3 separate regions of the Homo sapiens genome follow, and all the other regions are reported to be linked to region 2. Evidence: microRNA targets listed by miRTarBase, many of them from high-throughput screens and not tested one by one. Region 2 holds a microRNA gene; each other region holds the end of a gene's coding sequence. Distances are from middle to middle.
The links. Region 2 holds the annotated microRNA hsa-miR-6512-5p (UACCAUUAGAAGAGCUGGAAGA, at 1,249-1,270, shown strand). A microRNA usually pairs through its seed, bases 2 to 8, with sites in the 3' UTR of a target mRNA and lowers its output. Matches are read on the target gene's strand: a 7mer-m8 pairs with bases 2 to 8, a 7mer-A1 pairs with bases 2 to 7 and ends in A, and an 8mer does both.

Region 1: miRTarBase lists FIGN as a target of hsa-miR-6512-5p. The part of its 3' UTR that is shown has no 7-base or 8-base seed match.
Region 3: the mRNA of HEY2 is a reported target of hsa-miR-6512-5p. The part of its 3' UTR that is shown has no 7-base or 8-base seed match.

Annotation. Positions count from the first base shown.
Region 1 is chr2:163,607,046-163,610,260 of GRCh38, reverse strand. FIGN (fidgetin, microtubule severing factor) reads left to right here. Exons shown (of 3, transcript NM_018086.4): 3 at 1-3,215. The coding sequence ends at 709. Among named protein-coding and RNA genes, the nearest start is that of FIGN, 130 kb to the left of the region's middle.
Region 2 is chr2:177,311,862-177,315,122 of GRCh38, reverse strand. It overlaps MIR6512 (microRNA 6512), which reads left to right and starts at 1,241; the gene lies at 1,241-1,317. All of the region lies in intron 6 of LOC100130691 (Putative uncharacterized protein FLJ44553), which reads left to right.
Region 3 is chr6:125,759,281-125,762,534 of GRCh38, forward strand. It overlaps HEY2 (hes related family bHLH transcription factor with YRPW motif 2), which reads left to right. Exons shown (of 5, transcript NM_012259.3): 5 at 1-1,989. The coding sequence ends at 522. Among named protein-coding and RNA genes, the nearest start is that of HEY2, 11 kb to the left of the region's middle.

The DNA of each region.
Region 1 (3,215 bases), 14 Mb from region 2:
ATTTGGACCTCGGGGGACAGGCAAAACATTATTGGGCAGATGCATCGCTAGTCAGCTGGGGGCCACATTTTTCAAAATTGCCGGTTCTGGACTAGTCGCCAAGTGGTTAGGAGAAGCAGAGAAAATTATCCATGCCTCTTTTCTTGTGGCCAGGTGTCGCCAGCCCTCGGTGATTTTTGTTAGTGACATTGACATGCTTCTCTCCTCTCAAGTGAATGAGGAACATAGTCCAGTCAGTCGGATGAGAACCGAATTTCTGATGCAACTGGACACTGTACTAACTTCGGCTGAGGACCAAATCGTAGTAATTTGTGCCACCAGTAAACCAGAAGAAATAGATGAATCCCTTCGGAGGTACTTCATGAAACGACTTTTAATCCCACTTCCTGACAGCACAGCGAGGCACCAGATAATAGTACAACTGCTCTCACAGCACAATTACTGTCTCAATGACAAGGAGTTTGCACTGCTCGTCCAGCGCACAGAAGGCTTTTCTGGACTAGATGTGGCTCATTTGTGTCAGGAAGCAGTGGTGGGCCCCCTCCATGCCATGCCAGCCACAGACCTTTCAGCCATTATGCCCAGCCAGTTGAGGCCCGTTACATATCAAGACTTTGAAAATGCTTTCTGCAAGATTCAGCCTAGCATATCTCAAAAGGAGCTTGATATGTATGTTGAATGGAACAAAATGTTTGGTTGCAGTCAGTGATAACTTCTTTAGAAAAAAAAAATGTAATGAATGTTGGCACACACACATAAAACCTGCTACATAGGGAATAGAGCCCCTTTCCAGTAGAGTTTAAATTGCAAAGGGTACTGGGGAAGATGACGATTAAGTTGCATCTTTAGAGTCAGGGTAGATTTGGAGGAAAAGTGCATCAAATGAGAGCTTCTGATTTGAAAGCCCCAGATGACAGAAAGCATATGTGGATGCTCAGTTCTGTTCAAGCTAGACAACACTCACCAAGGAGCAAGGTGCAAGTGTGTTGATTTCAGAAGGACATGAACCTCGTGTGTTGATTCCATTCTGCTGTTCTCGAGATTTAGTTGCTGTCAAGTGCCTGGAGTGGTGCTTTATTTTTTGTTTGCCTCACAATTACATTGGTGGCATGTGCTAATATAAAGAGCTTTAACTTCAAACATTATTGGACTAAAGAGATGAACAGTTGTGTTATGACAGAAAACCAGATTTTTGCCATTTTAAGAGCAACAGTATTCCTCAATCCTGTCTGTTCTGCAGTATTAAGCTAAGAACAGGTAAAACAGGGTAACGGTAATCTGGACCTTAATTTCTGCAGTTCATTTCTTTTAATGTTCTTGTCTGCAAAAACTCAGGAAAGTGATTGTGATTTGTACAGTACCTCAAAGGAATGTGTTGAAAGCACTATGTACTGCTGAGAGTAATAGGATAGGCTTCAATGTTACTTTATATTAAAATGTATGTTTACCTCAACAATTGGAAAATAGCAAGGAAAATTACTTTGAATGTATCCAGAAAAATACTGAAGTGTGATACAACTGAATATTTACAGTTTAAAGTAGAAATGGAAGGATTTTTTTAAGTTCTTTTACTAATTATGGGGAATTAACCAGAGCAGAATAATTCTTTATGTCAATAACTGCAAGAGTTCTTAGTACATTGCTCCTTGATAATTAAGTGAAAATGTTCTTAAAAGGTACACTGGTTAATTGAAAGCTACTTATTCAGTTTGTGTTAGTGTCTAGACCTGTCAGCCACAAGACCTGTTTAGGACCCTGAAAGTCACAGTACCTAAAAACTATGACTGCCTTTTTATTGCATAGGTGGTAGTGGTGGTGATGGTGGTGGTAGTTTGCAAGTTATCTCTTAAAACTGCTGGGAATGGTGTCATTCTATTCACTAATCTAGCTTATAGACTTGCCGTGCTGTTTGATAGAATGCAGAGGATAGCAACCAAAACAAATACACAAATAAATAAAAACAAAAACCAACCAACAAACCAACTTACATACACATATATATATCCACAAAGAACCTCTCCATCTCCTCCCCTTCTTTTTGACTCCACTCTTGTCAGTGCAATTTTGCTTCTCATTTTGAAATCTGGGCTGTAGTGCTCCTGCTTTATTTCTACCTCAGTTTTGTTACATTTCTCTTGGAAAGTAAAGTAGAAAATTGGAAGTGGACACACACACTGCAATGTAGCTTGCCAAACATGTTACTTTGTTTTCTTCCATCTTTCACCGTAAATCTAGTTTCCAAAGACATCAGCATTTGTGCTTACTTCCACCTCAGTCTACCAGCCCCACCCCTACCCATGGCATAAGTGGCATTTTTCTTAATTTCCTATTTTTCTCCTGCTCTCTGTCAAGTTGTTCTTTGTATCCTTTAATGCTTTATGTGCAACCTTTCATTGATAGTGGGCTGATGTTTGGCAATGCTTCTGAACTGTCACAGAGCAGGCTGTAGCTTTCCACAGCCACTGCCCATGCATAAGCAGAACAGCCTGGCCTTTTGAATGTATTTTCCTGGGTTTTTTCCCCTTTTCTTTTTTTAGTTTAGAGATGCAGTAACAAAACTGTTGCAAAGCACTGGCATTTTATGTATTCAATAAATAAGTGATGTACATTTTTAAAAAAATTTAAATAAATGCAATGAGAAGCCCCAAGAAAGGCCTTTCTGTTTTTTTTTTCTTACAAAAATTTTTACCGATCTTATCCACAATATCCAATTCTCTGAAACACTTAACATAGAGAAAGCTCATGAGGGATTTCTTATCTCTGAAATTTTATGATGCTTGATCTTTACTCCCCTTTTTTTATTTTTTATGTTGCTAAAAACTGAGCAATTGAACCAGAATTTAATTTACTGTGACATTCTGTCAATTAAAGCTGTGCTTAAATATAAATATTCCATATTAAAAAGCAGTGCCTTTCATTAAGGATACAAAAAATAATACTTAAATACGCCCTCTGCTTTTCGCAAGTGAATAAATGCTACAATCGTGTTCTGGGTCTACCCTGTGCATCCCTTGTAAGGAAATTCTAATATCCACATTAACTTGTAGGTTCATATTGATCTCACTGACAAGTTTACTTTTGCACAGTGCTGACCTATTTTCTGACTTTTAGACATTATATTTCATTTCCGCCAACATGCTGTGTTCACTTGAAAGCGTCTGGCAAGTTTTGACAAACCCAGTCTTATTTAGACAACTTTGGAAAATCCAATATTG
Region 2 (3,261 bases):
CAGGCCTTGTCCAGAAGGGATCAGGTTTCTATGTTATATAATTAGGCAAGACTTTAAATAGTAAGACATGCACCTGTGGTGCTTTTGTCTCTAACTCCACAAATTTCAACATGCATACAAATCAAGAAGGGGTGGGGGTGTTACATGCAAATTCTGCTTCAGTGGGTGTTGGAGCCTGAGATTCTGGCTTTCTAACAAGCTCCCAGGTAAGTGCTGATGCTGCTGCTTTGAGGGCCACACACCTTGAGGAGTAGGAAGAGTACTCATACTGGAAGAGTATTCAGCACGGACTGGAATCCTGCATACATATCTGAGCTCTGTGTTCTGGTATGTATATAGACTTTTTAAAAAAATTAGTAGAGATGGGGTCTCACCATTTTGGCCAGGCTGGTCTCAAACTCCAGGGCTCAAGAGATCCTCCTGCCTTGGCCTCCCAAAGTGCTGAGATTACAGGCATGAGCCACTATACCTGGCTTATATAGACTGCTTCTAAGGTCCATTCTAACTGTACAATTCCATGATTCAGTCACTGTTTGGCTATTAACTAATTTTTTTAGGCTTCTGATTCTCATTGTTTATAAGCTGCTATATTAGAGAATGTTCTGTACTGGAAGGCCAGATAAAAAGTCTTACTTATGGCCAGTAAGTTTTATTTTTCAATCTTCTACAAGTCTGCCTCAACCCATGGGAAATCTTGGCTAATAGTAACATGATACTGGGCTTGGACCATAAACTAAACTTGAGTCAGCAATGTAGGGCTTTGGTTAGATAAGCAAGAATGAACTTGGGAATATAACCAAAAGAAAGGGACAGCTAATCCTACCAGAACAGGCAGTATTTATATGAATACTTTTTTCAAATATCCACAACTGGGAAAAGCTGCTGAACACATAAAGAAAAGTTAAAAGCACGGCATTATTTAGCTAGTGAAAAGAGAACAAAGAATGCCTTAAGAATAATTTTTGAATGGCAGCAGAAACCAGCATATCCTGTGAAGTAAATGCATTTTCAGGACCTCAAAATAGATTTAGGTTGCCTCTAAAGCAGAACTTTCCCATGATAATGATGATCCTAGGTGGTAGGATTGCCAATGGTAATTTTCTTTCCCAAAGATTCTTACAACCAACCATAAACCTACTAGATAACCTATCAGTTGTGTTATTAACTGATATATCAGTTGGGGTTCAGTGCAGACACTTCTCTAGGTACTGAATGCTAAGAATTATATGCTTAAAAATTATATGCTCTTACCATTAGAAGAGCTGGAAGAAGGCTGAGGGAGATGCCTTCTTCCAGCCCTTCTAATGGTAGGAGCATTAAGAGGGATGCTGTTGGGCTCGCAGTTCAGTCCACACAGCTACAATCTAGAGGTCAGGAAGCTATAAAGTCCACTGCTGGCATCACAGTCATTTCTCACAGATGAAGTTAGTGGCAATGCAGAGGCACAGAAAGTCTGGTCATTAAAAACCACATTTAATGTTGCACGTACATCAACAACTACCAGTGAAAACTAATAGGCAGCCAGGCATGTTGGTGCATGCCTGAAGTCCCAAACATTTGGGACACTGAGGTGGGAGGATCCTTGAGCCCAGGAGGTCTAGGCTGCAGTGAGTTGTGATTGTGCCACTGTACTCCAGCCTGGACAGAACAAGAATCTTTCTCAAAAAATAAATAAATAGAGAGAGAGAAGGAGGGAGGGAAGGAGGAAGGTAAAAAGAGAGAGAGAGAAAGGAAGGAAGGGAAAGAAGAGGAAGGAAGGAAGGAAGGAGAAGAGAAAGAAAAGGAAGGAAGGAAGGAAGGAGAAAGAGAAAGAAGGAAGGAGAAAGAAGAGAAAGAAAAGGGAGGAAGGAAGGAAGGAAGGAAAACTAATAGGCAGGGGAAATAGCCTCTCTCTTCCTTTTACCTTTCTAATTTCGCATCATTATATCTGACTGGCACAGTTTAAATTGTTTAACAAATCCTATTAGCAGCTCAGCCTAGAATTATAGTTATTGAGCTTTGTTCCTAACTCAGTATAAATCTATCTTTATTGAAGTATAGCATACAGACAGAAAAATGCACAAATTATAATCAGAGAGCTTGATGAATTTTCATAAAGTAAACACACCTACATATTGCTAGCACCCAGATTGGGAGGCAGAAACTACTACCATACCAGAAGCTCCCTTCATTATCTTTTCTAGGCATTATCCTCCCTCAAATTGACTGTAATCTTGGCTTCTAATACCCTAGACCAATTTGGCCTATTTTTAAACATTAGACAAAATGGAATGATACAGTGTGTATTATTTTATTACTGGCTTTTCCTACTCAACTATTTGTGAGATTCATTCATGTTGAGAGTAATAATAGTATCTTCATTTTCATTGCTGTGTAGTATTCCATTGTATGAATATAACACAATTTATACGTTCTACCAAAGATGGACATTTGGGTTGTTTCCAATTTGAGATTACTGCAACTAGTGCCACTGTGAACATTGGTGAACACACACACACACACATATTTCAGTTGGATATATAAAAGTGTAATTTCTCTGATGCATGGGGTTCAGCTTGAGTAGTACTGCCCAACAGTTTTTCACATCTTCATCAAAACTTGATCTTTTCCATCTTTTAAATTTTAGCCATTCTCTTCAAAGACTAATGCAGTGTATTGAATCTCATTGTTGTTTTCATTTTTCTGATATCAAATAAACACCTTTTTAATTGTTTATTGGCCATTTGGGTACCCTCTTCTGTGAAATGCCTATTCATGTGTTTTGTGTGATTTTCTATGGGCTTGTCTGCCTTTTCTTGTTTTTATAGTCCTTTATTCTGGATATGAGTCCTTTGTCGGGTATATGTATTGATAATATCTTTTGCCACTATGTGGCTTTTTGTTTTTTGTTTTTTTTTTTTGAGATGGAGTCTTGCTCTGTCACCCAGGCTGGAGTGCAGTGGCGTGATCTCGGCTCACTGCAAGCTCCTCCTCCCGGGTTCACGCCATTCTCCTGCCTCAGCCTCCCAAGTAGCTGGGACTACAGGTGCCCGCCACCATGCCCAGCTAATTTTTTGTATTTTTAGTAGAGACGGGGTTTCACCATGTGAGCCAGGATGGTCTCAATCTCCTGACCTTGTGATCTGCCTGCTTCGGCCTCCCAAAGTGCTGGGATTACAGGCGTGAGCCACTGTGCCCAGCCCACTCTGTGGCTTATTTTATTCACTCTTTTAATAGTGTATTTTGAAGAAGACATTCATAATTTTGAATTAGTTTAGTTTA
Region 3 (3,254 bases), not on the chromosome of region 2:
GAGGCGGCGGCCATGACATCCTCCATGGCCCACCACCATCATCCGCTCCACCCGCATCACTGGGCCGCCGCCTTCCACCACCTGCCCGCAGCCCTGCTCCAGCCCAACGGCCTCCATGCCTCAGAGTCAACCCCTTGTCGCCTCTCCACAACTTCAGAAGTGCCTCCTGCCCACGGCTCTGCTCTCCTCACGGCCACGTTTGCCCATGCGGATTCAGCCCTCCGAATGCCATCCACGGGCAGCGTCGCCCCCTGCGTGCCACCTCTCTCCACCTCTCTCTTGTCCCTCTCTGCCACCGTCCACGCCGCAGCCGCAGCAGCCACCGCGGCTGCACACAGCTTCCCTCTGTCCTTCGCGGGGGCATTCCCCATGCTTCCCCCAAACGCAGCAGCAGCAGTGGCCGCGGCCACAGCCATCAGCCCGCCCTTGTCAGTATCAGCCACGTCCAGTCCTCAGCAGACCAGCAGTGGAACAAACAATAAACCTTACCGACCCTGGGGGACAGAAGTTGGAGCTTTTTAAATTTTTCTTGAACTTCTTGCAATAGTAACTGAATGTCCTCCATTTCAGAGTCAGCTTAAAACCTCTGCACCCTGAAGGTAGCCATACAGATGCCGACAGATCCACAAAGGAACAATAAAGCTATTTGAGACACAAACCTCACGAGTGGAAATGTGGTATTCTCTTTTTTTTCTCTCCCTTTTTTGTTTGGTTCAAGGCAGCTCGGTAACTGACATCAGCAACTTTTGAAAACTTCACACTTGTTACCATTTAGAAGTTTCCTGGAAAATATATGGACCGTACCATCCAGCAGTGCATCAGTATGTCTGAATTGGGGAAGTAAAATGCCCTGACTGAATTCTCTTGAGACTAGATGGGACATACATATATAGAGAGAGAGTGAGAGAGTCGTGTTTCGTAAGTGCCTGAGCTTAGGAAGTTTTCTTCTGGATATATAACATTGCACAAGGGAAGACGAGTGTGGAGGATAGGTTAAGAAAGGAAAGGGACAGAAGTCTTGCAATAGGCTGCAGACATTTTAATACCATGCCAGAGAAGAGTATTCTGCTGAAACCAACAGGTTTTACTGGTCAAAATGACTGCTGAAAATAATTTTCAAGTTGAAAGATCTAGTTTTATCTTAGTTTGCCTTCTTTGTACAGACATGCCAAGAGGTGACATTTAGCAGTGCATTGGTATAAGCAATTATTTCATCAGTTCTCAGATTAACAAGCATTTCTGCTCTGCCTGCAGGCCCCCAGGCACTTTTTTTTTTGGATGGCTCAAAATATGGTGCTGCTTTATATAAACCTTACATTTATATAGTGCACCTATGAGCAGTTGCCTACCATGTGTCCACCAGAGGCTATTTAATTCATGCCAACTTGAAAACTCTCCAGTTTGTAGGAGTTTGGTTTAATTTATTCAGTTTCATTAGGACTATTTTTATATATTTATCCTCTTCATTTTCTCCTAATGATGCAACATCTATTCTTGTCACCCTTTGGGAGAAGTTACATTTCTGGAGGTGATGAAGCAAGGAGGGAGCACTAGGAAGAGAAAAGCTACAATTTTTAAAGCTCTTTGTCAAGTTAGTGATTGCATTTGATCCCAAAACAAGATGAATGTATGCAATGGGATGTACATAAGTTATTTTTGCCCATGCCTAAACTAGTGCTATGTAATGGGGTTGTGGTTTTGTTTTTTTCGATTTCGTTTAATGACAAAATAATCTCTTAATATGCTGAAATCAAGCACGTGAGAGTTTTTGTTTAAAAGATAAGAGACACAGCATGTATTATGCACTTCATTTCTCTACTGTGTGGAGAAAGCAATAAACATTATGAGAATGTTAAACGTTATGCAAAATTATACTTTTAAATATTTGTTTTGAAATTACTGTACCTAGTCTTTTTTGCATTACTTTGTAACCTTTTTCTATGCAAGAGTCTTTACATACCACTAATTAAATGAAGTCCTTTTTGACTATTTTTTATGTGGATGAGTTGCTTTGCAGAAAAGTTTCCTTCCACTTTCTATGTGGAAAGTCAACATGAATTTCAAGAGGTCTTTATTTACTAACGATCCAAGCTATGGCTTTTCTTTATGTCTTTCAAAATCATTTGATATAATTCACAGCTTGCCTGAAAATAACATTTATCTGAGCTTGTAAACTAAGCATAGGCAGTAAGATACTTGGAGGCAAGAAATAATCAGTTTCCTCTGCCTTTTATTCTTAACTACAGTTCTTGGCAAAGTGCAAATTCAAGACTTCCAAATGGTATACCAAATATAGGATAATAAGCTAGAACATGTCATACATGTTGTAATTCAAAAACATTTGTAGAGTGTTTTAAAAACATCACATACATACATGATAGGCGTGTACATACGTCCTAATGATAAATCCCTTGTGCTTCAATGACAATTTCTTTTGTTGCTGTGGAGATTGTATGGGTATTGCCTCTGCTTCAGTGAGGCCTAAATAAACCATCATAGAGCTCCTGAAGCTATTGGGCCAAACAACATAAAAAGAATGAAAGTGATTTTTATTATGCTTATCAATTTGTTCAAAGGAAAAAGGAGGGCTTTTATATTCTGGTTTTGAAAAATCCAGCAAGTAGTTTAATTTCTGTCTGTAAGTGGGTAATGAAAAGGTCGAGGGGAGGCAAAAGCAAATCACCTTGTTTCTTGTGTCTATAAGCCTTGTGGTTCTTATATTTTCCAGCTGGCTCTAATAGAATGAGGTAGCAAATAAGAAAATTGATTTCGTTGTCTTAGGTGTTTGCTTTATAATCATGATTTGTGGACAACAGCCATATAATTTTTACTTTAAGATCTAAAACCTGAATGTATTCCTATTGTAATGTCAGCATTCAGAGAACTTCTTTTCCTTTTTTGAAATGTAAACTTTTAGAGATCAGGAATTTAAAATTTATTTGAATTAAATATTTTAAGATAAATTCCTTTCCTTCCTCCTTCCCTCCCTTTCTTTTACTTTTTGTTTTTTCTTACATTTTTTATTGCAGGTTATATATGTATTATTATTTTTCTTTTTTCTTTTTTTTTTTTCTTTTTCAAGACAGGGTCTCACTCTGCTCACTCTGTCACCCAGGCTGAAATGCAGTGGTGTGATCATGGCTCACTGCAGCCTTGACCTCCGAGGTGCAGGTGATCCTCCAACCTCAGCCTCACGAGTAGCTGGGACCACAGGCATGCACCAGCACACTCGGCTAATTTTTGTATTTTTTGTA